Homo sapiens: one gene and its partners. The protein of the gene in region 6 interacts with the protein of the main gene of each other region in a pairwise test. Each region holds a gene or a part of one and is shown on either strand. Other genes may lie near its edges. The genes, in order: LARP4, CAPN3, NDUFAB1, STPG4, ADGRF5, FNDC3B and DUSP10.

Region 1 (3,310 bases), on a different chromosome or scaffold from region 6:
GGGTGACAGAGTGAGACTCCGTCTCAAAAAAAAAAATTACGTTTTCTTCTGATTAGTTGCTCAACTGTTCCTATATGCTATTCTGAGTCTAATTGCAAGCTCTTTTTTCCTTAGCACAACTCAGCAAGAAAAGGATCTAATAGAAGATTCCTCTGTTCAGAAGGATGGTCTCAATCAGACAACTATACCAGTTTCTCCTCCAAGTACTACAAAGCCATCGAGGGCAAGTACTGCTTCACCATGTAATAATAACATAAATGCAGCTACAGCTGTGGCTCTACAGGTAACTTGAAGATTTTAGTTTATGTTAAAAAAAATACAATAGATTAGATTTTTTTTTTTTTTTCACGTAACACTTTGTTAGAACAGAGTCATTTGGAAGTAGCCCAAGTTGGGGCTGACTATCAGAAAGAAGCTTAAGGAGTGTTAGGGTCACTGCAAAGAGATGGAAAGTTTTAGGCTTTTTTTTGTTTTGTTTTGGAGACTGAGTCTTCACTCTGTCGCCCAGGCTGGAGTGCAGTGGCACGATCTCGCGTCACTGCAAGCTCCGCCTCCCGGGTTCACGCCATTCTCCTGCCTCAGCCTCCCGGGTAGCTGGGACTACAGGTGCCCACCACTATGCCTGGCTAATTTTTTGTATTTTTAGTAGAGACGGGGTTTCACTGTGTTAGCCAGGATGGTCTCAATCTCCTGACCTCGTGATCCACCCGCCTCGGCCTCCCAAAGTGCTGGGATTACATGCGTGAGCCACCGCGCCTGGCCCATTCTGTTTCTTTTGATTGCTTTTTTTCTGTTCATATGGTTAAGTGAAGCTTCTTCCTTACCCACGTTAGGATGAATTTATCATTTTGGGGCTAACATAAAGAGGCCTTGTGCCTCTTGATATTCTTTTGGTTGTATATGTGATACTTAACAAGTCTATAAGTGGCCATTGAGAGGCCACTCCCATTTATCAAGTTCCAGAATTGTTTTATAGTTATATAATTGGGAAAATACAGAAAAGCAGAACAAAACACAAAATTTACCTATAATCCCTAGCATTTTAGTACAGCACTTTTAAAAATAGATTTAGAAGACTATCTTCTCATTCAATGATAGTAATAATACTAAAATAATAGCTACCATTTGAATGCTTACTATATATTATTAGGACTAGTGCTGAAGACTTTACATGTTTTATTCTGTTCTCACAATACCTCTATTCCACCTTTTTCAGTTGAGGTAATTAAGACTTTTAATGAGTCTTTTTATACCATTGGATTCTAACTGCTCTGCTGGGATTCTTTTGTCATCTTTCTTGGGGTTCTTTGTAGCAAGGAAACAGGAGCAGAAAGAACCATTTTATTTCATCATATGGCTATACCATTATTCATCTAATCTGTCCTTTGTTAGGCATTTAGGTCGCTCCCATCATTATAAACAACGCTGACATGAACATCCTTCAGTTAAATTCCTTACGTGAAATTATTGTATAATAAATAAAGATTGTACCAGTGTACTCTAAGCAGTATATATGAGAGTGCTTGTTGCCCTTTTCTGGAAGATAATCTGTGGTTTTCTTATGGTTAACACAATCATTTTTATACTTTATAATTTAAAGAATGTGTACCATAAATGTTTTTTTTTATCATCACTTCAAAGGAACCCCGAAAGTTAAGTTATGCTGAAGTGTGCCAGAAGCCCCCTAAAGAGCCATCTTCAGTTCTTGTGCAGCCACTACGGGAACTTCGCTCCAATGTGGTGTCTCCCACCAAAAATGAAGACAATGGAGCTCCTGAGAACTCCGTTGAGAAACCACATGAGAAGCCAGAAGCAAGGGCTAGTAAGGATTATTCTGGCTTCCGAGGCAATATAATCCCCAGGGGAGCAGCAGGAAAAATCAGGGAACAGAGACGCCAGTTTAGCCATAGGGCTATACCTCAGGGAGTGACTCGACGTAATGGCAAAGAGCAATATGTGCCACCCAGATCACCAAAGTAAAAAACAACAAAACTATTCAAAAACTTCACTCTCTTCCCATTAAACTTGAACTGTGGCTATATTGAACTGTTTTGGAGGGGAGGGGGTAGCCAGGAAGGAAACAAGAGAAAGTACGTCCATTTCATTATGGATTTTGGAGTTGTGAGTGATAGGATCCCAAAATTCATCTCTAATGTGGTTTTTAAATGCTGGAGGATTCCAATCAATATAAATATATATATATATATACACACACATATATAAAAAGTATAATTTTTCTATTTTTGTTTTTGGTTTTAATTTGCAGAGATTTGCTGCCAGGAATCAATTTTGAGGGTTCAGATTTAGCTTGGAAGAAAAAAAAGAAACATACATCCTTCAGTATAGGAGATGAGGGAATGAGAGAAAATATTTTTTGAAGAAGCATTTCTGTAAAATTAGAAATTACTTTTTTTAATCTATTTAAAGTTTGGCTTGAAGAATGCCATCTCTGACTATATGGCCTTGTATTGCAAAGCGGATCAGTGGCTGGGGTGCCTGTTGTGGGTGTGAGTGTGTACAAGAGCGATTGAAGCCAAATCTGTTGTCATGTTAGTAAATGATTTGAAAACTGAATGTAATACTTGAGTAGATTTTTTTTTCTAGTTTGAAATTTAGTCTGTCTTTTTGACCTTACTAATATTTCATTTAACAAGTTGTAAAACTCTGATTGTACTTAGAGATGTGACTACCAATCAGTTTGATACTCAAGGAAAGGGGGTTATTCAAGAAATTGAAAATTTCATCTTGGACCTCAGTGCATAGGTCAAATGGATTTCAGAGGTTTAAACTTCCCTGTGATTCCCCCGAATACCCCCAAAATGAGAAACAAAATTTTTTTTCTTACTCCATTTGTTACTCTCTGTTCTTTGACTGCCCACCCACAGAAAAGCAAAATAACCAACTACCTACTCAATTGTGTGTTTGTAATTGCTTTGAGCAGTCTAGTCAAATCATATAAATTGTTCTAAATTTCAGAATTGAACATTGAAGTATTAACTCTTCTGTTCACACATTTAGAATTTTAGCTCCCAAGATGGTAGGGCAGACTGACCGTACAGTAATTTATTTGTCGTTAGTGTTAAAGATTAAGCATAGTAACTGACTCTTAAGTGTTAAATAATGTAGAAGTAAAAAAATTTTTTTTAAAGGCTTAATTTGGGAGGGGGGACTTATTTCTGTTTACAGTGTATTACCTTCCTTCCCTCCTCTTCTCCCCCCACACCCAACAAAATACAGTTTGGAATTCACTGAAACAGTACCAGCAAGTCATGAGATTTTTTAGTAAAGATGAGAAAGATGGTTGAAGAAA
Region 2 (3,500 bases), on a different chromosome or scaffold from region 6:
GGAAAATAAGGTTCATGATGAATTATAGCTTGGGAAACTTATCTAAACTCTATTCTTAAAATAAGCCTAATTCAAGAGATTTCTGTGTACCAGAATACAAGGAATAAAGTCATCTATTCAGAGGACTAAGAGGCTGCTGCCGTCTGTCTGGGAAAGAGGTGTCCACAGGTCCAGGTGTTGGTGGAGGGCACTAGCTGGCCCCAGGAGTGAAGAAGAGCAGGGCTAAGGGTGAGGTTGGACTACTGGGCAAAGCACAGATGGATATGGGTATGATAGTAATACCTGGCAGGAAGAAAGGCAAACACCAGAGAAATGTGGCTGAAGTAGAGACCCAGCTCTGAGCTGGGAACGGGTGGGGCCCTGTAATGACAGAGAGGTGGGGACAGGAGTTGAGGGAAAGAGGTGAGGGGAAAAGGTGAGGGGAAAAGACCCATAGCTGGAGCTCCAGCCACCATCAGCAAGTGAGAAGGCACTGGATCTGGAGTTAAGTGGGAAGGTGGCAAGCTCCCCCAACTCCCAACAGCAAATAGAGGAGAGAGCTAAGCAGAAGGTTGCGATGAGAAACTGCAAGGCCCAGCTATCAGCCCAAGGAGCTTGGAGGACAGTGGAGGAAGGGAGAACGGATTTCCTAGGGAAGGAGCTGGAGGTTAAGCTGGAGGTGGCTGTATATCAATGATGCAGTTTTGACTCCGATTCAGGGCTGTGAACTGGAGGCCCAACCAGAAATAACCTCTCCTAGCAGAGCCAAGAAACACTGAGACCATGCTGATGGAGGGAAGTTTAACCTGAAGTCTGGGTTAATCCAGCTGCTAAATACGGTGGGCCCTTCCTTCTCCAAGCTCTAGGTTAGGGTGGGTCTGGAATAACATGGAATTTACAGAAAGGTGACTCCACCTAGCACCAGAGACAGGAGGAGCCCAGGAACCTCATTGTTGTCAGGGTCCACTGCTGGAAGCCCTGGCCAGCTGAGCTGATGGTGCAGGGCAGGGCCCTGTGGAGCAATTCTGGGATCCCATGTTACCAAGGGTGAGGAGAGGACCAGATACCTTTTCATCACAAGGTCCTGCAACTGGCCCTTCACTTCTCATCCCTCCAAAAGAAGCAGGGATCTAGGTTGCCCCTGCTTTGGGAATTGCAGGAGATGAGAGAGAAGAAGCTTAAGAACTCTCCACCTGGCATGACTGAGGCACATGCAGATGGGAAAAACGAAGCCCTTGCTCAGCAAGTTGGTCTCAGTGAGCCTTTAAAGCCAATCACTGGGCAAGGTGCCAAGTTTCCCAGCCAAGTGTGATCCCTCTTTTGTAGTCTCCTTCCTGGCTCTATGATACACTCAGATTTTCACAACCAAATGTACATTTTATATTTGATGTAGATAACTAGAATTGCCCTAAAGGACAAGCAGTCCCCTGCCCATGAGGGGAGCATTCACACACACATCCTCATGCTGAGATGGATGGATGCATTTAGACCAGGCATGAAGTACTCAAACACATTGCTGTAGCTAATATCTTGACTGGTCATAGGCACAAATTAAGCTGGAAAAATGTTTATGATGTTGCCACTTTTAAGAGACTGCATAGCTGCTTGTAGGCAGTAATAAGAGTAGTCTATGTTTACTGAGCACTCAACCATGTGCTGGTCTTAAGCCTTTAGCCTGCATTAACTCATTTAATCCTCAATTAATTAAGAGATGGGTTCTTCAATTATGGTTTTTCTCCATTTTTCACATGGAGAACCTGTGGCAAAATGAGGGTAAGTATGTGACCAAGATTACCTAAGTGTTAGGTAGCAGGCCCAGACTTGAACTTAGGTTATCTGACCTCAGAGCCTGGGCTCTTAGCCACTGTGCCATTCCATCTCCAACTTATAGAGGCTGATGCTTTCAGGGGCAACCCCTGGGGTGTCACTCAATGCCTGTTGTGTCTTGAGGAGGCCCAATAAATGACACCTTACTTCCATGCATGAGTTTTGAGCCAATAAAGGAATACTACAAAAGTGCAGGGCAGGTGGGAGTCCAAAATCCCACATTTATTGTTTAATAAAAATGGATATTGACATCTAAATCTCAGAATTAGATAGATTTGGGGCTCTAGAGCCAGATTGTGTGGGTTTAAATCCCAGCTCCAACCCTCACTAACTGGGAGATCTGGCGCGAGTTATTTAATCCCTCTGAGACTCAGTTCCCTCCTTTGTAAAGTGGGACAATAATGGTACTTCCTCACAGGATTGTTGTGAAGATTAAATGAATTAACATATGGAAAGCATTTAGTTACTGGCATGTGGTGAGTTCTCACTCAAGATTAGCGATTATCTTTACTGTTAACCACACATTACCAGGTGGCCCAGGGACTCCTGCATGACTCCCCATGGGGACTTGCCTCCAGAAAACTTACTGCAAGGAGGGCAGAGAGCAGAAGCCATGCTTCTTGCAGGCAGCTTGCTTCCCAGAGAAAGACAGAAGCCAAGAACTGGGCTTTACAGGTCAAGTTCTCTTTACAAACCCACCATGGGAAGGAGACAGGCCAGGAGTGTGGTGCAATTGAACCTTCCACCCCATGGAATGAAACACGACCTGCCCTCCCATCCCCAACCTATCCCTAGTATATTGGGCACCAGCATCCCAGAAGCCCTGTTCTAGAACCCATTCTATTCTGCCCTGGGATCTGTCATCAAGAAAACTTGCCTTAACAGTTGAGAAGTGTTGAATAATTTGTTTGCTTTCTGATCCTAGAAATAGATCATATAAGGAAAGTCTAGAGGAACCAGATTGTTTGCCCTGGAAACTCAATGCATGATGTTCCCGAGTAGAGGAAGAAAGTCTGTGAGGTAGCACTGGTGAGTAAGAGAAGAGATTACAGGTGAGCTGGGAACAGTCGGCCAGAGCCTGTTTTCTTTTAAGAGGGAAAGGCTGAAAGTGCAGCATGCTATTTTAACTAGAATTATAGTTGGCCAGGAATAATTCTCCCTTTATCATTATTATCATTATCACTGTAATTATAATAAATAATACTTGATGGTCGAAAAAAAATTCAGATTGGTTTCCAAAGGTTCTGTGCCTTAGACAGTAAAAGCAGGAAGGCCTTTACTCACCTGTGTGGTGCTTCTCCTGATAGGACACAGTCTTTTCAGACTGCATAGGGCTGGCAAAGGTCACTACATCTGAAGAAGTTTATGGAGAACTGATGTCTCCAAGAAGTGCTTTACAGTCAGAAAGTTCTGGAGTCATTTCAGTTTTTCAGTTCCAAGTCAACTTGTGTGGCTGTAGATAAGTCATTTGCCCTTTCTGGGCCTTAATCACCTATAAAGCAAGGACACTGGAGCACCTCTCCAAGAATCATTCCAACTCTGACCATCTCTAATTTTATATTTCTCATTTATGCTAGTGAACCCAATGGGCAGTGTTCCTGTGATCTTAACCCCAGGGGAACATGTGGGCATTTTATCCAAGAGTGGCCTTTGTTATCTGGTCCTTTAGTGACTCAAACAGTGGAAAATCCAGG
Region 3 (2,902 bases), on a different chromosome or scaffold from region 6:
CTAAGCAATGCATACATGTTATTTACATCAACCCCAAGGAACCAACACAGTGCTAAGAGTAAAAGGGGCAGAACCAATAATGATGTGTGACAAATCAAACTGTGGTTTGATGTGTGGCAATGTCAAACTGACCTTCCAGGAGGAAAGAGAGCCTCCCATTCTCCAAAACTGTTAAACTGTATTAAAAGGGATCTTTAGGACAGTGATGAAAAACTAGTCCCACCTGCTGATATCAGCTGACACATCTGATAATAAGCTAATGGAAACCAAAACAAAGTTTTTTTTGAAGCAAAAAGTCCATTTCCATGAATATATTCACTCCTGATACGAAGGTGGGGAGACAGCCTTACTTCAAGTACATGGCTGGGGAAGCCATTGTTTTTGACATGCATGAATACAAATGACAAATCAGACCTTTAAAAATATTAAGCAATGTCAGTATACAAACATAAAAAAGCACTTTATAGACATCATTGAAAAACTGAAGATGGGGGAAAATGTTGGTTTTATAGATTTATTTTCAAAGAGTAAAACACATACAATTTAAATACAAGTCCATCAGAATCACTCTGTCAGAGTCAGCAAGAATGCCAAAATGTGTCCTCACTGCCAGACATTCGTCACTATCATCTGAGTCCTCTCTCAGCAAAGCCAAAGGGTCTGGAAAAGACAAAATAAGTTCAATGTTATTTTTGATGTATTCTTACTAATGATAAGTGACATCTTTCAGGTGCTAAAAATGCAGCCTCTGGCTGAGTGCAGTGGCTCATGCCCGTAATCTCAGCACTTTGGGAGGCCAAGCTGGGCGGATCACCTGAGGTCAGGAGTTCGAGACCAGCCTGGCCAACATGGTGAAACCCCATCTCTACTAAAAATATAAAAATTAGCTGGGCGTGGAGGTGCACGCCTGTAATCCCAGTTACTCAGGAGGCTGAGGCCGGAGAATTGCTTGAACCCAGGAGGCGGAGGTTGCAGTGAGCCGAGATTGTGCCACTACACTCCAGCCTGGGCAACAGAGCAAGGTTCCATCTTTAAAAAAAAAAAAAAAAAAATGCAGGGTCACTAAAAGCTAAAGACTAAAAACACTAATACAATGTTTTAATTCAAAAAGTCTTATTTGATTATTCTAGGTCCCAAGTAACAAAAGCTACTATTTACTGAGAGGCTTCTTTACATCATTATATCAAGTGATATATATACTCTCTTCAATTTTGCTTTCACAAAAGCCCCAGGTAGGTCCTATCATTACCACCATATTACATATGAGGAAACTGAGGCTTACAGAGCTAAGCAGCCTGCCTGAGACCACCAGGCTTATAGTGTGTGGCAAAGCTGAGAATAAACTTGGGTGTCTCTGACTCCAAAGTCCATCCTCTTATACATGAGGCCTCTCTTGCCTACTTAAGAGCCAGGTCACTTCAGTGTCTTACCCAGCAGGCTGGGCTTACCTTGGCTGAGTAATTGAGGGAGACAGAGGTCTGTTTCCAGGTTACCCTGTTCAGTACTTTGTACAATGTTCTGCTTTTGTGAGGACAGCTGACAATCAAGGGAGTTCTATCCAGGAATGACAGTTCTCAACCTCTCAAAGATCACCACCAGGGCTGGGCCCCTTTGAGTGGCAGACAACAGGAAAGGGCTTGCATTTTATAAGTAGTGAAAAATCTTGGTCAAGCATTTCCATTTTCTGTTTCTTCTTAAGTTTCCTTTATTGAAGAACCACAGACAAATCTATGGGTGAACATCATTTTTTAAGTCTATTTACCTGATACTTTATTCATATACATCCTTCTTATCTGCAATGTAATCTACAATTTCTTGTGGACACATTAACTTTTCAGCATCTATATCAGGAATTTCAAACCCTAAAAGAAAAATATACAACAATGTGAGAGAGTTAAAAAAAAAAAATCCTTTAGAACTGAACACACCTGACCCTTCTACAACAGCTACAAGTATATCAAAACTTTCAGCAACCTTGAATCCCATATAGGTTGTGGGCCAGTTAGCTTCTAGACAGTATGCATACAGGTTGGGTACGATGCTTTGGAGGTATGTTTGTTTGTTTGTTTGTTTGTTTGTTGAGATAGAATTCACATAATAGAAAATTCCTCCTTGTATATACCATATAATTTGGTAGTTTTTAGTATATTCACATTGTGCAACCATCACCATTGTGTAAAAGAAACCCAGCTCCCTCTCCCTCTCCCCACGGTCTCCCTCTCCCTCTCCCTCTTCCCACGGTCTCCCTCTCCCTCTCCCTCTCCCCAAGGTCTCCCTCTCCCTCTCCCTCTTCCCACGGTCTCCCTCTCCCTCTCCCTCTCCCTCTCTTTCCATGGTCTCCCTCTGATGCCGAGCCGAAGCTGGACTGTACTGCCGCCATCTCTGCTCACTGCAACCTCCCTGCCTGATTCTCCTGCCTCGGCCTGCCCAGTGCCTGCGATTGCAGGCACGCGCCGCCACGCCTGACTGGTTTTCGTATTTTTTTGGTGGAGACAGGGTTTCGCTGTGTTGGCTGGGCTGGTCTCCAGCTCCTAACCGCGAGTGATCTGCCAGCCTCGGCCTCCCGAGGTGCCGGGATTGCAGATGGAGTCTCGTTCACTCAGTGCACAATGTTGCCCAGGCTGGAGTGCAGTGGCGTGATCTCGGCTAGCTACAACCTCCACCTCCCAGCTGCCTGCCTTGGCCTCCCAAAGTGCCGAGATTGCAGCCTCTGCCTGGCCGCCCATCGTCTGGGATGTGAGGAGCCCCTCTGCCCGGCTGCCCAGTCTGGGAAGTGAGGAGCGCCCCTTCCCGGCCGCCATCCTGTCTAGGAAGTGAGGAGCGTCTCTGCCCGGCCACCCATCGTCTGAGATGTGGGGAGCGCCTCTGCCCGGCTGCCCAGTCTGGGAAGTGAGGAGCGCCT
Region 4 (3,500 bases), on a different chromosome or scaffold from region 6:
TTAAGACCAAGAAAATTAGCCAGGTATGGTGGTGCGCATCTGTGGTCCCAGCTATTTGGGAGACTGAGGTGGGAGGATCACTTGAGCCTGGGATGTCGAGGCTTCAGTGAGCTGTGATCACGCCACTGCACTCCACCGTGGGCAACAGAGTGAGACTTTGTCCCTAAATAAATAAATAAAAATAAGATGTGATCAGGTCAGGTACAGTGGCTCACACCTGTAATCCCAGCACTTTGGGAGGCTGAGGCAGGAGGATTGCTTGAGCCCAGGAGTTCAAGACCAGCCCGGGCAACATAGTGAGATCCTGTCTCTACAAAAAATAAAAAAGTAGCTGGGTGCAGTGGCACACACCTGAAGTCTCAGCTACTTGGGATGTGGAGGTGGGAGGAGCACTTGAGCCCAAGAGTTTGAAGCTGCAGTGAATTATGTTCATGCCATATCATTCTCCAGCCTGGATAACAGAGAACCTATCTCAAAAAAAGAAAAAAAAATGTGGCTGGGCACGGTAGTTCATGCCTGTAATCCCAGTACTTTGGGAGGCTGAGGCAGGTGGATCACTTGAGGCCAGGAGTTCAAGACCAGCCTGGCCAACATGGTGAAACCCTGTCTCTACTAAAAATACAAAAATTAGCTGGGCGTGGTGGTGTGCACCTCTAATCCCAGCTACTCGGGAGGGTGAGGCAGAGAATTGCTTGAACTGGGGAGGCGGAGGCTGCAGCGAGCGGAAATCACGCCACTGCACTCCAGCCTGGGCGACAGAGCGAGACTCCATCTCAAAAAAATAAAAAGAAAAACTGTGATCAATTTGACATTTTCCTATGCAGCATCTCAGGTATGCTGTCTATAAAATTCACCATGAAGACCGAATCTATGTTAAATGTTTTGAAGCTCCACCTTTGGAAATGTACATTTTCCTTTTCCACTATTAAAGTAAAGAAGGAATTATCCAATGTTGTATGGTCATAAAATAAAAGATTACGAATGACAGATAACGAAGTGAGTTTACAACCTCTATTAATCTATTGGTGTCCTTGTCCATTCTGTGCAGTCACTTCAGCTTTCTCCGGGGCAATACAACGTGCTTCCTGCACCAGTTCCCAAATATGCTTCCAGGTAATTATATACTTATTAAATAAGCTGCCTTTCTGTTTACATACCTACACGCCAATACTCCTGGCTTTTAAACCTCATTTATGCACCTCATATGCAAATTAACATTTTAAAATATTTAATGAAAGGTAGGGAATAAGTTAACAAAGATCTTTAAAAAATAGATTTAGAAAATCACTTTTCTTTTTTATTTTGAAATATAGGAGCTGTGTATTTCGCTCAACAGTTCAAAGATTCCCAACAACCTATTTTATTCCCGTAAGTATAATGTAGACAGTTAACTCATGATGAATTTGATGTTTAAAATACGCTGTGCTTTCTGGAGTGGAGCAAGGTGGCCACATAGAACCCTCCAGTGATCGTTCCCCCTAGCAGGAACACCATTATCCACACAATTATCCACACAAGAAAACACCTCTGTAAGAACCAAAAAGCAAGTGTGGGATCGCAATACCAGGTTTTAACATTGTATCAAGGAAAGAGGCACTGAAGAGGGTAGGGTAGAAAAGACAGTCTTGAATTACTGACACTACCCTCCCCCATCCCCTGGCAGCAGCCACGTGGCATGAAGAGAGAATCTGCCCTTGGGGAAGAGGGAATGCCGTGACGGGGGGACTTTGCACGGGAACACCGTGCTGCCTGTAACAGGGAAAGCAACACAGGACAGAATTCAGCTAGTGCCCATGGAGGGAGCATTTAGACCAGCACTAGCCAGCCAGGAATTGCCCATCCCAGCCGTTCGATACTGAGTTCCAGCTCTCCCTACCACTGTGGGCTGAAGTGCTCTGAGGTCCTAAATAAGCTTGAAAGGCAGTCTCGGCCACAAGGACTGCAGTTCCTGGGCAAGTTCAGGTGCTCTGCTGGGCTCAGAGGCAGTGGACTTAGGGTACACAAGACCTAGTGAGACACCAGCTGGGGCAGCCAAAGGAGTGCTTGTAGCAGCCATCCCCCAGCCCCAGGCAGCACAGCTTGCAGCTTCAAGAGAGAGGCCTTCCTTTTGCTTGAGAGGAGGAGAGGGGAGAGTAAAGAGGACTTGTCTTGAATCTGGATACCAGCTCAGCCACAGCAGAATAGGGCACCTCAGGCAGAGTCCTGAGGCCCCCATACCAGGCCCTAGCTCCCAGACAACATTTCTAGACACATCTCTGGCTGGAAGAGAATCCACTGCCTTAAAGAGAAGGACCCAGTTCTGGCAAGATTCATCACCTACTGACTAAAGAGCCCTTGGGCTTCGAATAAACACCAGCAGTGGCCAGACAACACTCACTGCAGGCCTTAGCCAGTGCTGTGCTGCTTCAGGTGTGATCCAGCACTTTCCCAGCTACAGTGGTCACAGAGAGAGACTCCTGCTTGAGGAAAGGAGAGGGAGGAGTAAAGGGGATTTTGTCTTGCAGCTTGGGTACCAGTTCGGCCACAGTGAAGTGGAGCACCAAGCAGGCTCCTGGGGTTCCCAATTCCAGGCATTGGCTCCTGGATGTCATTTCTGGACTCCCACTGGGCCAGAGGGGAGCCCACTGCCCTGAAGGGAGAGACCCAGGCCTGGCAGCCTTCCTCACAAGCTGACTGAAGAGCCTTGAGTGAACATTAGTGGTATCCAGGCAGTACTTGCTACAGGCCTGAGTGGCATAGAGAGATTCTTTCTGCTTGAGGAGAGGGGAGGGACGAGTGGAAAAACTTTGTCTTCTGGCTTGGGTGCCAGCTTAGCTGCAGTAGTATAGAGTACCCAATAAATTCCTAAGTTTCCTGACTCCAGGCCCTGGCTCCCAGATGGTATTTCTGATCTGCACTTGGCCCAGGGGGCAGCATGCTGCCTTGAAGGGAAGAGCCTTTGGGCCTTGAGTGAACATGGGCAGTAGCTAGGCGGTAGTTACTGCAGCCCTTGGGTGAGACCCAGTACCATGCTGGCTCTGACCCAGTGCAGTCCCAGGGATATTGGCCATAGAGGTGCTTGTGTCACCCGTCCCTCAGCTTTAGGCATCTCAGCACAAAGAGAGACTTCGTTTGTTTGGGGGAAGGGAAGGGAAGAGAACCAGAGTCTCTGCCTGGTAATCCAGGGAACTCGCTCAGATCTTATCCAAGACTACCAAGGCATTACCTCTACAAGTCTACCAGAATCACAGCAATTACTAGGCTTGGGGTGCCCTCTAATGCAGACACAGCTACGGTGACCAAAGACAGATTACAGCACTTAATTCCCTTTGAATACTTGGAGAGCCTTCCCAAGAAGGACAGGTACAAACAAGACCAGCTGCAAAGACTACAATAAACACCTAACTCTACAATGCCCAGACATCGGCAAACATATACAGGTATCAAGACCATCTAGTAAAACACAACCTCACCAATCGAATTAAATAAAGCACGAGTGATCAATCCCAGAGTGACACAGA
Region 5 (3,500 bases), on a different chromosome or scaffold from region 6:
ACCTTGGGTTTTAAGGCTCCAGAGGGCATAAAAGTAAAGACTGTGCTCCCTAAACACACAATGGGTCACTCACACCCCATTGACACAATGTTAAGACCTTCAAAAAGTGGCACATTCAGTAAGAGACTAAGCTAGGAAAACAAAATTCATCTGCCAGAGTTGAGACCTTGGCCTCATCTCTGGGTGGACAAAAGGTTTCCCCCAAAAAATATAGTTGTCCTGCCATCACTCAGGTTTGGGCTTTGAATTTATATTTCCTTTGTGGTTCAGGAGTGCCAACCTAAGTTTAAAGTTGTCCATTGGTAGCACCCTATGTCAACCAGCAAAAAAAGAAAAAAAAATCAAAGTCTCTCTGGTAGATGGTGCCCTTAATCCAGATCCCTAGGGATTCCCAGAGATTAAGGTCAACCAGCATGATCTCACAACCCAAAAATCTCAAAACACAGACAACTTCATGAGGGATTTACAAGCTCATTCATTTTTTCAATAACTATTCTGGAGGGCTTACTCAACGCAAGACACCATAGTAGGCAATGAAAGGGAGAAAAAAGAAGTGGGGCACATATTTTAATATCTAGAAGGGCCCATGCCCTGAAAGGCAATGCATATAATATAAAATATCCAAATAGAATAATACAGACTAAAAAAACAGTAGAAGTTCAGAAAAGTGGGGACTCAATAAACACTGTAGTCTTTAAAGAAGGCTGCATGGCAGAGGGATATAATCAATCTGGATTTTGACATATGCAGCATTTCAACATTCTGTGTTTAATATGCATACATTCAGTGCTTTCTATGCACCAGATACTGAGCTGAGCACCAGGAGATGGAAAGATAAATAAGACAAGGTACTTTCTCTCCAGGAGCGTATGGTCTAGTAGAGAAGACAAACTCATGAATAGGTGACTATATACCAATATGGTAAAGGCAGAATAGGATAAATGCTCAGAGCATGATGAAATTTAGATAGGGAGAAGGATTTGTGGAATGCTGAAAAGGCATTCTGAATGTCAAAAATGTGTGACTTGGAGTCATGAATGGTAGAGGAGAAGTTTTGACTAGCACACATGCAAATGTGGGCTTACATACTTCAAAACCCAGAGGTAAAACCTGTTAAAAATGAATGTGGCACATTCCTCGGGAAAGCTTGGACAGGTTTATTCATATTAGGTTATCTTAACACAATTTGTGCATTAGAGACTCATGTTGTGACTTAATTCTTTCAATAATTCTGTCTTCAGCAAAAGAAGTTAACAAAAAACAAGTGTGCTACAAACACAATTTCAATGCAAGCTCAGTTTCCTGGTGTTCAAAAACTGTTGATGTGTGTTGTCACTTTACCAATGCTGCTAATAATTCAGTCTGGAGCCCATCTATGAAGCTGAATCTGGTTCCTGGTAAGAACGTTTTAAATTACTTTAAGATGTTATAGTCAGGGCAGGGACTTATTTATTTATTCACTCCCTCATTCATCCCCATTCAATAAACATATGTTAAATACCCTCACTGTGGTAGGCCCTGGGCTCACCATAGTGGTATTTAAAAGAAAAGAAATAAGCCATGTCCCCTGGCCTCAAGCCTAGGGAAGAAATCTATGTGATAAAAAAATGTTATTGGCCGGGTGCGGTGGCTCACGCCTATAATCCCAGCACTTTGGGAGGCCGAGGTGGGCAGATCACGAGGTCAGGAGATCAAGACCATCCTGGCTAACACGGTGAAACCTCGTCTCTACTAAAACTACAAAAAATTAGCCAGGCATGGGAGCATGCACCTGCGGTCCCAGCTGCTCGGGAGGCTGAGGCGGAAGAATCGCTTGAACCCAGGAGGCGGAGGTTGCAGTGAGCCAAGATCGTGCCACTGCACTCCAGGCTGGGCGACAGAGAGATTCCGTCTCAAAAAAAAAAAAAAAAAATTATTACATGTAATACAGTAAGAGCTAAATAGAAATGTTGTGGGTGGCTTAGCTCTGCTAAAGGAGTTTACCAGGTGATTAGAAGTGGACAGTATCAATGTGGTTGAGGTCCTTTGGGGTTTCAGCAAATGAAAGGTGTCCACACTGCACTGTTTTTCTGAGACAAGGCTACATGAAAACAATTAATCTCGAGAATAGGCAGCTGCCTTTCCCATCCTTTGCCACCACTGAGTCAATTTGCCATCACATAATATCTTTGAGGTGAAAGTTCATGTTTTACAGAGTCATTGCTATGCTAGCCCATGTTGGGGAGCTCCCCTCAGCAGCAGGGAAGGATAGATCATCCTAATACAAGGTCATCTTAAGGGAGAATCTTATGTTAAGACAAGGGGTAAATGATGACCCTGGGCTTCTACCATAAGCAACTCCTCATCCTCTTAAATCTTCCCAGCAACAGGACTTGTGATAGACAAAGGATCGTTATCACCAAGATTGTTTGAGTTTACTGAATAGTTTGTGGTCATTCTCACATGTTGGCAACTAGCCCCTGGGCACCAAAACAGGAAACAATTTAGAGTCACTTTCACCTGACCTTTCCACGCACAAGTACAACCCCTCCAGGGTGCAGCAAAGGTCACCTCTTCTTTTCCCCATCACTCATCTTAGCCAACACATTTTATTCACTTATCTTTGTTCTTCTCCTCTTTCTTTATACCAAATATGGTTTCGCTTCTTTTTCCTAGTAGAACATTACTTATTTAAGATTTATATACAGTGGTTAAGATCTTAATGTTAAAGAAAAGTGTTGGTGAGGGAGGGGTCTCATCAGAGTCAGGGTCCACTGGACATGAGAGATTCCACAGCAAGTGTCATTTCCCCATCCTTGCCTGGTCATGAGAAGAGGTGAAATAGAATCACCTCTAAGGGAAACCAGAAGGAACAAATGCTTAAACATATTGATTAGAATATTCAGGTCATGGGTACCTAGAGTTCCTACTAGCAATTATGTCTTTGGATTATGGCAGTGATTCTCAACCTTGACAGCACACTGGAATCACCAGGGAGGCTTAAAAACCTGCTGATGCCTAAATCCCGCTCTGACGATTCCGATTTACTTAGCCCAGACACTGGTGTTTTCAAAAGCTTCCCAGATGATTCTAATATGTCACAGTTGAGAATCTCCAGATGAAGGTATAAAATTCTGTTAGGAAAAGGAAGTTCCGATTACAGAAGTCAGGTTCATGTGGAAAGCAGAGAGGGGCTTTGGAAAATCAAGGGCAAAATTAAGAAATTGGGTAGTTCTGAAAAGGTGACGGAAAGTAAAGGTAAATGTGAATTCAAACATCAAAATTCTACCTTGGCCTGACCGTATTTCTACTATATTGTCTCTTCCTTGCAATTATCCCTTTATTTCAATGTTTCCAACACAGGGGAAAACATCACATGCCAGGATCCCGTAATAGGTGTCGGAGAGCCGGGGAAAGTCATCCAGAAGCTATGCCGGTTCTCAAACGTTCCCAGCAGCCCTGAGAGTCCCATTGGCGGGACCATCACTTACAAATGTGTAGGCTCCCAGTGGGAGGAGAAG
Region 6 (3,500 bases):
CATTCACAATCACATTCTCACAGACACAGTCCCTTTTTCTACCTGAATGAGATGCAGTAAGGAATCCATAAATTCAATGAGTGTTATAATCAATGAGTGTTATAATCAGATTCCTTACTGCATCTCAGTCAGGTAGAAACTGGGACTGTGTCTGTGAGAATGTGATTGTGAATGAAAAAGGGAATCTACTTGAAATAATTGATCTTATGTTTAAAAGTTGTTCAAGTCTTTGTTTTCCAGTCATTTATATCTATAAACTCACCTACCTTATCCAAATGCTACCTTTTTTGCCTCACTTAAGTCATTCTTCCCTATGCCTATAGAAATAGCCACTGTTTTTCCTTATGTGGCATCAAAATAGGTTCTCTCTAAACTACCTCCAAAACTTCATTTAAACACATAAACCTTCCTCCAAATGAACTGATCTACCCAAGAGATTCATCTACAAAAAGACAGATGCCATTCTGAGTTGATGTTTCTCTACCTATATGTGGTGGCCCTCATTCTTCCATCTTATTCTTAGTTTCTGAACACTTAATTCACAGGCAAAAGGTGGTATGAGACAATAACTGATGCCAAAACTAAACAGAAACATATTTCTGTGATTCAATGATAGATTTCATTACAGAAAGGAAGTAATTACGTATGGTTTATGAGGTATAATTATTTTGAGATTTAAACTAGCCTACACTTTTAGAAAAATTATCTTTGGATTTCTTCCACATCTGTCTATTCAGAGAGTGAAACAACAGAAGTAGGCTAACATGAAAAGATTTTCAAATATTTGTTATTAAGTGCAAAGTTGCATGGCATCTGTGACCAAAATGTAGTATTTCTGCCATGAAGTATTAATAAAAAATAAACAATGCAATATTATTTCCTTACCAAGAAATAGATCAAAGAAGGTCTACTCAAATATTCTTAGCAGAACAACCAACCACCATGAAATAATATTCTCATGTAAAAGATGTGGAAACATCATTTGAGATGTCTCTGTCTTGATAATTCACTCTATGGCAAACATCTTGAGTATTACCTTGCAAGTCTGAATCATTCGACTTTGGGCTGCTTCTTGCTCGTCGCTCTGTTTTCTTAATTCCGGGACCACTACCGCTGCCGCCTCCGCCACTTCCACCACTATGGCCCTTCCCATAGCCATTGTATACTGTTGTGCAGCTGCTTTTGTAGATAGAAGAAGGAGGGCTGTTGAGGCGGTTCTGGCGATCGATCTGGCGGTCTTTCAGTTTTTTGTGCGGAGGCTTGCTGTACTGGTCTTCTCGGGTGATGTAGGTTGACATTCCATAAAATGGTATAATTTCTAAAATGGATGATTATGATAAACCCAAACTCAGTTTACATTTTCAATAATAAATTATTAAATGGTCAAATGATCTGGCTCCTGAAGAAGTCTAAAGTATAAAGGAAGTCTAAAGTATTACTAAATAGAGTCTAATAAATATTTTTTAAGAAAATACTGCTGGGCACAGTGGCTCACGCTTTGGGAGGCCGAGGTGGGCGGACTGTCTGAGCTTGGGAGTTCGAAACTAGCCTGGGCAACATGGTGAAACCCCATCCCTACTAAAAATACAAAAAATTAGCCAGGCGTGGTGGTAGGCGCCTATAATCCCAGCTATCCAGGAGGCTGAGGCAGGAGAATCGCTTGAACCCTGGAGGCGGAGGTTGCAGTGAACTGAGATTGCATCACTGCACTCCAGCCTGAGCGACAGAGCAAGACTCTGTCTCAAAAAGAAAAAGAAAAAAGAAAATGCCATATACATGATATACATTTAAAGCATTCCCATTTGTTTCTAACCAATCAAGGAATAATCAATCATTAAAAACTACACTGTGTGTTCAGAAAAATTCCTATATTACAGAGAATACTGAAGACAAGGTTGTTATCCCTAAAGAGCTCATATTCTAGTTGCATTTATAACTGAGTTTGATTTTTACCTTTCAATATGTTTTCAGTAGTTGCAATACATGAAAAAGTCAGAACAAATAAAATACCCCTATTAAACATGTACTTAGAATCAAGCTACTTTAAAAGTCTACTCATCCCTGTAGACAGAATAGTATTTCTACTGGGAAGTATATTGCAGTCAAAGTTTTCTGTGGCATACAAAAGAGCCAACATTTGAACAAATTTAACTAAGATAATGAGATGACATATTTCCATTTAAAATAATCAAAGCTCACAGAATCAGGGGAAATGTTCAAGGAGGAAGTATAAGGATAAAGAAAAGCCATCTCTGAAATCTGGTGCCAAACATAATAAGCTGTGGTCTCAAACTTCTCTTTTGGAGTAATAGAAGGCAAGACAAATGTAGAATGTCACCTGACTTTACTATGCACATTTTAAAGTGGCTCAAAAGAAAATAGAAGCCTGCAAGCAATCTTATGATCTCAAGGGGAAAACTTTATGTTAAATTTAAATTTTTAAATCAGTTCAAAATTATTTTTAGGTATCAGTAAAAATGACAATGCGTAACATAAAGATTGGGTCCTTACATCTTTATAAGAAAAAAGGGTCACCTCTTCTATGGAGTGACAATATAAATTACCATCCAAATCTGAACACTTCTGAGAGCGAAAAGGAAGGAATATCAATAATTTCTTCAAGGCAAGAGACCTACACTAGGACTGTCACAGGCACAACAGAAATGTATGGTTACCCTGCATAATTTAACAAAACTGCTGTCTCAATTACTCAACAGTAAAGCTCCACTGTTTCTTACTGTTAACATAGCTAAAGCATAAACAAGAGTTGTTTTGTTAAAAAACAAATCTTCATGAGAGAACCAGTTTGCACTAGAGAACGTGTCAAAACAAATATAATCCTATTCAGAGAGTGTGTATCCAAAGAAACTATGTCAAAATATACCAGAAGGATAGTAAATGTTCTAAACACCACGATGTATTACACATGAGATTTAACATATTCACTATGGGCAGTAATAATCTTTTCAGACATGTTGAAAACTTTTAAAACTCTTATAGTTTAGAAAATTAATATTTAAATTGCTTTTAGGTATGCACACTAAGAACTAAGGTAAAAGAATATATCAATGGCTTATTTATAAAGGGAAGGGATTTTGTTTTACTGCTTTAATTTGAAATCAATGAAGGCATTTTTATTTGCATACATTATTGCTCTGTGTTATTTTAATGGAATTAGACCCAAATACACCATAAAATGAAGAGACTACAATTTTGCTTAACTCTAATGACGATTTAAATCATACTGTTGTCTTGCCTAAAATTGCAAAGGACAGCATTTACAAAACAGTAACCATGTGGCATCCTACTAACAGACTGCTAAAATAAGGCAAGTCAGACATATACCAGCAAGCAATGAGTCAGTCACCAAGGCCTTTCATGTCATCAGAGCTCAGATACAGCCAGAAAGCTCTAAGAAACACTCAATTATTTAATGCATGTTGAGTCAAAGCACTGAATACATTAAAAAAATTACAGCTAACTAAATTTTTTCAGTTTTT
Region 7 (3,500 bases), on a different chromosome or scaffold from region 6:
TAAATAAACTGGTATAAACACTAAACTTAGATGCTGCTCAGCTTATATTACACTCTCAGTGAAAGCTATTATGTTTATAAAACCTGCTGTGTTTTTACTAAAGCAAGACTGTAAGATTTCAGTTTATCCAATAATATAACAATGAAAATAAAATTGTGCCTATGCAGGTTGTGATATGGAGTTGTTCTTCGGGCTGAATGCTATTTGTTATTGGTTTTGTTTTCCTTAAAAAAAAAAAAAAAAAGGCAGGTAAGCCTGAATAATCTATAAGGAATGTGAGAAGGAGCTTTAGTTGAAATCCTCTTAGAACAAGTATATCTTACCCTACTCATTAAATAGAAAACAATTTCCTAACTTCCTCCAACTGGAGTTAAGTCAGATGGAATCTCAGTCATAACATCACATCATGTATCAACCAGAAGTTCCTCATATGCTTGTTGAGAAATTTTTCTTCCTCAGCGCTCCAGGTTTGGCTCAGATTTTATTAATAAAGAATCTGCAGTATCTCTGCATCCTCAGTGTTGCCAGTTGGGAATTACTTAATAGGGCATCATAAACATTGCCTTAGTGTGTTGTGAAAAGGCCTCAGGCTTGGGAGTCAAAAACCCTGGATTCTGGCCCCTTCTTGGACACTAGAATTCCTATGACCTTGAAGAAGTCACTTTACTTCTCTAAGTTCAGTGATCACCCTGAATTTCCTTTCAGACTCAATATTCCATGGTCCTGTGCTGACGGCATAATTAGCAAGGAAAACAGCTTGGCAAAATGACCAGAGATGTCAACACTACAGCAAATCCACCAGACCCCACTGGCTGTTAAACCTGAGGCTGTTTTTTTCTTTCTCTGACAAAGGAACACCCCACTCCACTTAACTGTATTCTTCCTGGAATAACAACCTGCTGTAATATTTAGGAAAAGTACTAGGCCACCCCTTTATGGTAATAAAAGTTGAAGTTACGTAAAAAAAAATAAATGTTGAGTTTTGCTATATTGCAGGTGCTCCCAAAATGATATTTTGAGTGTTTTTTTTTTTTTTTGAGACAGAGTTTCACTGTTGTTGCCCAGGCTGGAGTGCAGTGGCGTGATCTCAGCTCACTGCAACCTCCGCTTCCCAGGCTCAAGCGATTCTCCTGCCTCAGCCTCCTGAGTAGCTGGGATTACAGGCATGCACCACCACGCCTGGCTAATTTTGTATTTTTTTAGTAGAGATGGAGTTTCTCCATGTTGGTCAGGCTGGTCTCAAACTCCTGACCTCAGGTGATCCACCCGCCTCGGCCTCCCAATGTGCTGGGATTACAGGCATGAGCCACCGCGCCCGGCGATATTTTGAGTCTTATAGCAGTTTGGGGCTATAGAAGTTGCAGAAATTAAGATTAGGATTAGGCTAATAGTTGCTTCCTTCTGGGGATCAAAGCGTGCTGTTGCTAAAACTTCCTCCTTGGGAACTACTCCGTCTACACAACCTGATCTTTCCTAGTTCAATGAGTTTGGGGCAGACTGTCAAAGGAAACCTAGTACCATCTCCCCTTATGCTGGATGAATAAGGCTTAGTAGGGTGACCGGAAGGCATAGGTATGTTTGGAAGGGGTGTCATATTCACTAGATATTGCTTCCAAGGTGCTCAACGGCGCTAGTAGATCAAGTAGCAGTAGCACCAGCTCTGACCTCCGATTCCTTACTTTCCATCCACTTTTCTGGTTACAGAGCACATAAATGCTAACCCCTACCACTATTTCACTGAGAACTTGAGGGATGAGGATTTCTAGTTGAACAGATCCCAACAAATTCAATTACTGTCCTTTTATATCCATCCTGATGGCTTGGATACACTCGACAGGCTATGACTTAGGAGAATGCTTAGGCTGTTTCAGGTGGCAGAGCCCTCCAAAACTCCAGGGCAGCTTTTCTTTTCCAACACAGGAATAAACCTTGAACTTGATATCAAAGCAAGAGCTGGAGGGAAAAGGAAGGCAGCGGATGAAAATTCCCTATGGGAGATAGTTACCAATGAACTCAAAAGCCTCTTCAAAGTACTGCCGCAGGTTCTGCTTGTTGCTGTCAGTGGCTGGCAGCCGCTTGTAGTTGAACAGGCCTTTCTCATAGTGGTAGAGGGGAAGATGAGTGGTGACGTTGATGACGTAGCCGATGTTCAGCCGCTGCATGGTGTCCAGGTCCTGAGCATCCTGCTCATTGCCAAGGAACAGGAAGGGCAAGATGGGGGTGAGCTCAGCGTTCTCGATGTCAGGGGTGGTGGGGATGGGCTGAGGTAGCAAGCTCGAGGCCGCGGATGCGCCGCCCCCCACCTCCCGGCACTCTTGGAGCTGGAGGGAGTTGTCACAGAGGTTTTCATGGTTCTGCTTAAAACTACTAAGTCCACCTAGAACACAAACACAGAAGGTGAGTGTGACTGAGATTTCAGAGCTGGCAGAGAATGCCACCTCCCCATTAGAATGAGTTTGCATTGTAGCTCATGCATATTTTAAATACATATATAAATATGTATTTAAGCAAAAAAAATAAAAATAAAAATAAAACAAAACAAAACAAAAACTAAAAGTCCATTTGGAGACCCAAGACAAGCTTCGGGGAGTATCACTGCATGGAACACTTTGGAAATGTGCTCTTTCTACAAATGAGGGCATGTTCCCCTAGCAAGAGTTCCACGCGGCATCAGGCAATCTTCCTCAGCTGCAAATGTGACCTGCCTCAAAGAGCCATATGCTCAGTGGCCTACATAGAACCCTGTGCTTTGGGAGCCAAGAAAGGCACAGATGACCTCCTCGGGTGGAATCTCAGCACCACAGGAGCATGTCTTGCACCCTTCATAGCTCACCTCACCCAGAGGGACAAGTTTGCTCCCAATACAGCAGAGTGGTTACAAGCAGGAACATTGGAAGAGACAGGTTATCTTGATTATAATCTGGGTACCATCATTTCCTGACACTATTACTTAAGTTCATTTATCTCTGTGCTTCAGTTCCACCATCTGTAAACTGAGGGTGATGGTGTCTCCCTTTGAGTGCAATTGTGAGCCTGAGATAAATGAATACGTGTAAAATACTTAGCACATCTCCTGGCACACAGTAGAACTCAGCAGGCATTCACTATTTTAATTTATATTATTTATATGATTGCCCACAGGTGAAATCAGCAGAGAAGTACTTGGAAAAGACAAGCCAGGGTGGGGTGTGAAGGACTGCTCTTATAATCTTTTTTGATATTCTCCACGTAGGGCCCTGACATTTATCAACCCTGACTTTCAGTAGAACAGAATGTGAGAGCAGCGCGGTTGCTTACTCCTCGACTTTCCAAGGCTTGTGGGCACATAAACCCATCAAGAAACCTCTTTTGGATGTGTGAATGCATGCTTTTGAGCTTACGGCTCTGCTCTGCCTCCCACGAGTTATGGGTCTAGTATAAAAAGCTTATAAACTGTGCTTATTTCTCCATTTTTAAAATGCAAACCTTCCCCTGAACAAGTGCAATCTCACTTTTGGGAA

Evidence for each region.
Region 1: the proteins of FNDC3B (region 6) and LARP4 interact in a two-hybrid assay, tested with the Homo sapiens proteins (one large-scale study listed by BioGRID).
Region 2: the proteins of FNDC3B (region 6) and CAPN3 interact in a two-hybrid assay, tested with the Homo sapiens proteins (one large-scale study listed by BioGRID and IntAct).
Region 3: the proteins of FNDC3B (region 6) and NDUFAB1 interact in binary tests that used the Homo sapiens proteins (3 or more experiments, as listed by UniProt).
Region 4: the proteins of FNDC3B (region 6) and STPG4 interact in binary tests that used the Homo sapiens proteins (3 or more experiments, as listed by UniProt).
Region 5: the proteins of FNDC3B (region 6) and ADGRF5 interact in binary tests that used the Homo sapiens proteins (3 or more experiments, as listed by UniProt).
Region 7: the proteins of FNDC3B (region 6) and DUSP10 interact in binary tests that used the Homo sapiens proteins (3 or more experiments, as listed by UniProt).

Annotation. Positions count from the first base shown.
Region 1 is NC_000012.12:50,473,885-50,477,194, forward strand, and holds part of LARP4 (la-related protein 4), read left to right. Parts: intron 1-114; coding exon 115-283; intron 284-1,641; coding exon 1,642-1,980; 3' UTR 1,981-3,310. UniProt on the Homo sapiens protein: RNA binding protein that binds to the poly-A tract of mRNA molecules. Associates with the 40S ribosomal subunit and with polysomes. Plays a role in the regulation of mRNA translation.
Region 2 is NC_000015.10:42,362,501-42,366,000, reverse strand, and holds part of CAPN3 (calpain-3), read right to left. Parts: intron 1-3,500. UniProt on the Homo sapiens protein: Calcium-regulated non-lysosomal thiol-protease. Proteolytically cleaves CTBP1 at 'His-409'. Mediates, with UTP25, the proteasome-independent degradation of p53/TP53.
Region 3 is NC_000016.10:23,580,514-23,583,415, forward strand, and holds the end of NDUFAB1 (acyl carrier protein, mitochondrial precursor), read right to left. Parts: intron 1,863-2,902; coding exon 1,771-1,862; 3' UTR 1,763-1,770; intron 661-1,762; 3' UTR 501-660; downstream 1-500. UniProt on the Homo sapiens protein: Carrier of the growing fatty acid chain in fatty acid biosynthesis.
Region 4 is NC_000002.12:47,127,809-47,131,308, reverse strand, and holds part of STPG4 (protein STPG4), read left to right. Parts: intron 1-1,048; coding exon 1,049-1,113; intron 1,114-1,313; coding exon 1,314-1,368; coding exon of another isoform or gene 1,369-1,383; exon of another isoform or gene 1,384-2,861; intron 2,862-3,500. UniProt on the Homo sapiens protein: Maternal factor that plays a role in epigenetic chromatin reprogramming during early development of the zygote.
Region 5 is NC_000006.12:46,862,939-46,866,438, reverse strand, and holds part of ADGRF5 (adhesion G protein-coupled receptor F5 precursor), read left to right. Parts: intron 1-1,241; coding exon 1,242-1,397; intron 1,398-3,342; coding exon 3,343-3,500. UniProt on the Homo sapiens protein: Adhesion G protein-coupled receptor. In alveolar type II (ATII or AT2) cells, required for normal lung surfactant homeostasis.
Region 6 is NC_000003.12:172,249,078-172,252,577, reverse strand, and holds part of FNDC3B (fibronectin type III domain-containing protein 3B), read right to left. Parts: intron 1,319-3,500; coding exon 1,037-1,318; intron 1-1,036. UniProt on the Homo sapiens protein: May be a positive regulator of adipogenesis.
Region 7 is NC_000001.11:221,704,090-221,707,589, forward strand, and holds part of DUSP10 (dual specificity protein phosphatase 10), read right to left. Parts: intron 2,378-3,500; coding exon 2,006-2,377; intron 1-2,005. UniProt on the Homo sapiens protein: Protein phosphatase involved in the inactivation of MAP kinases. Has a specificity for the MAPK11/MAPK12/MAPK13/MAPK14 subfamily. It preferably dephosphorylates p38.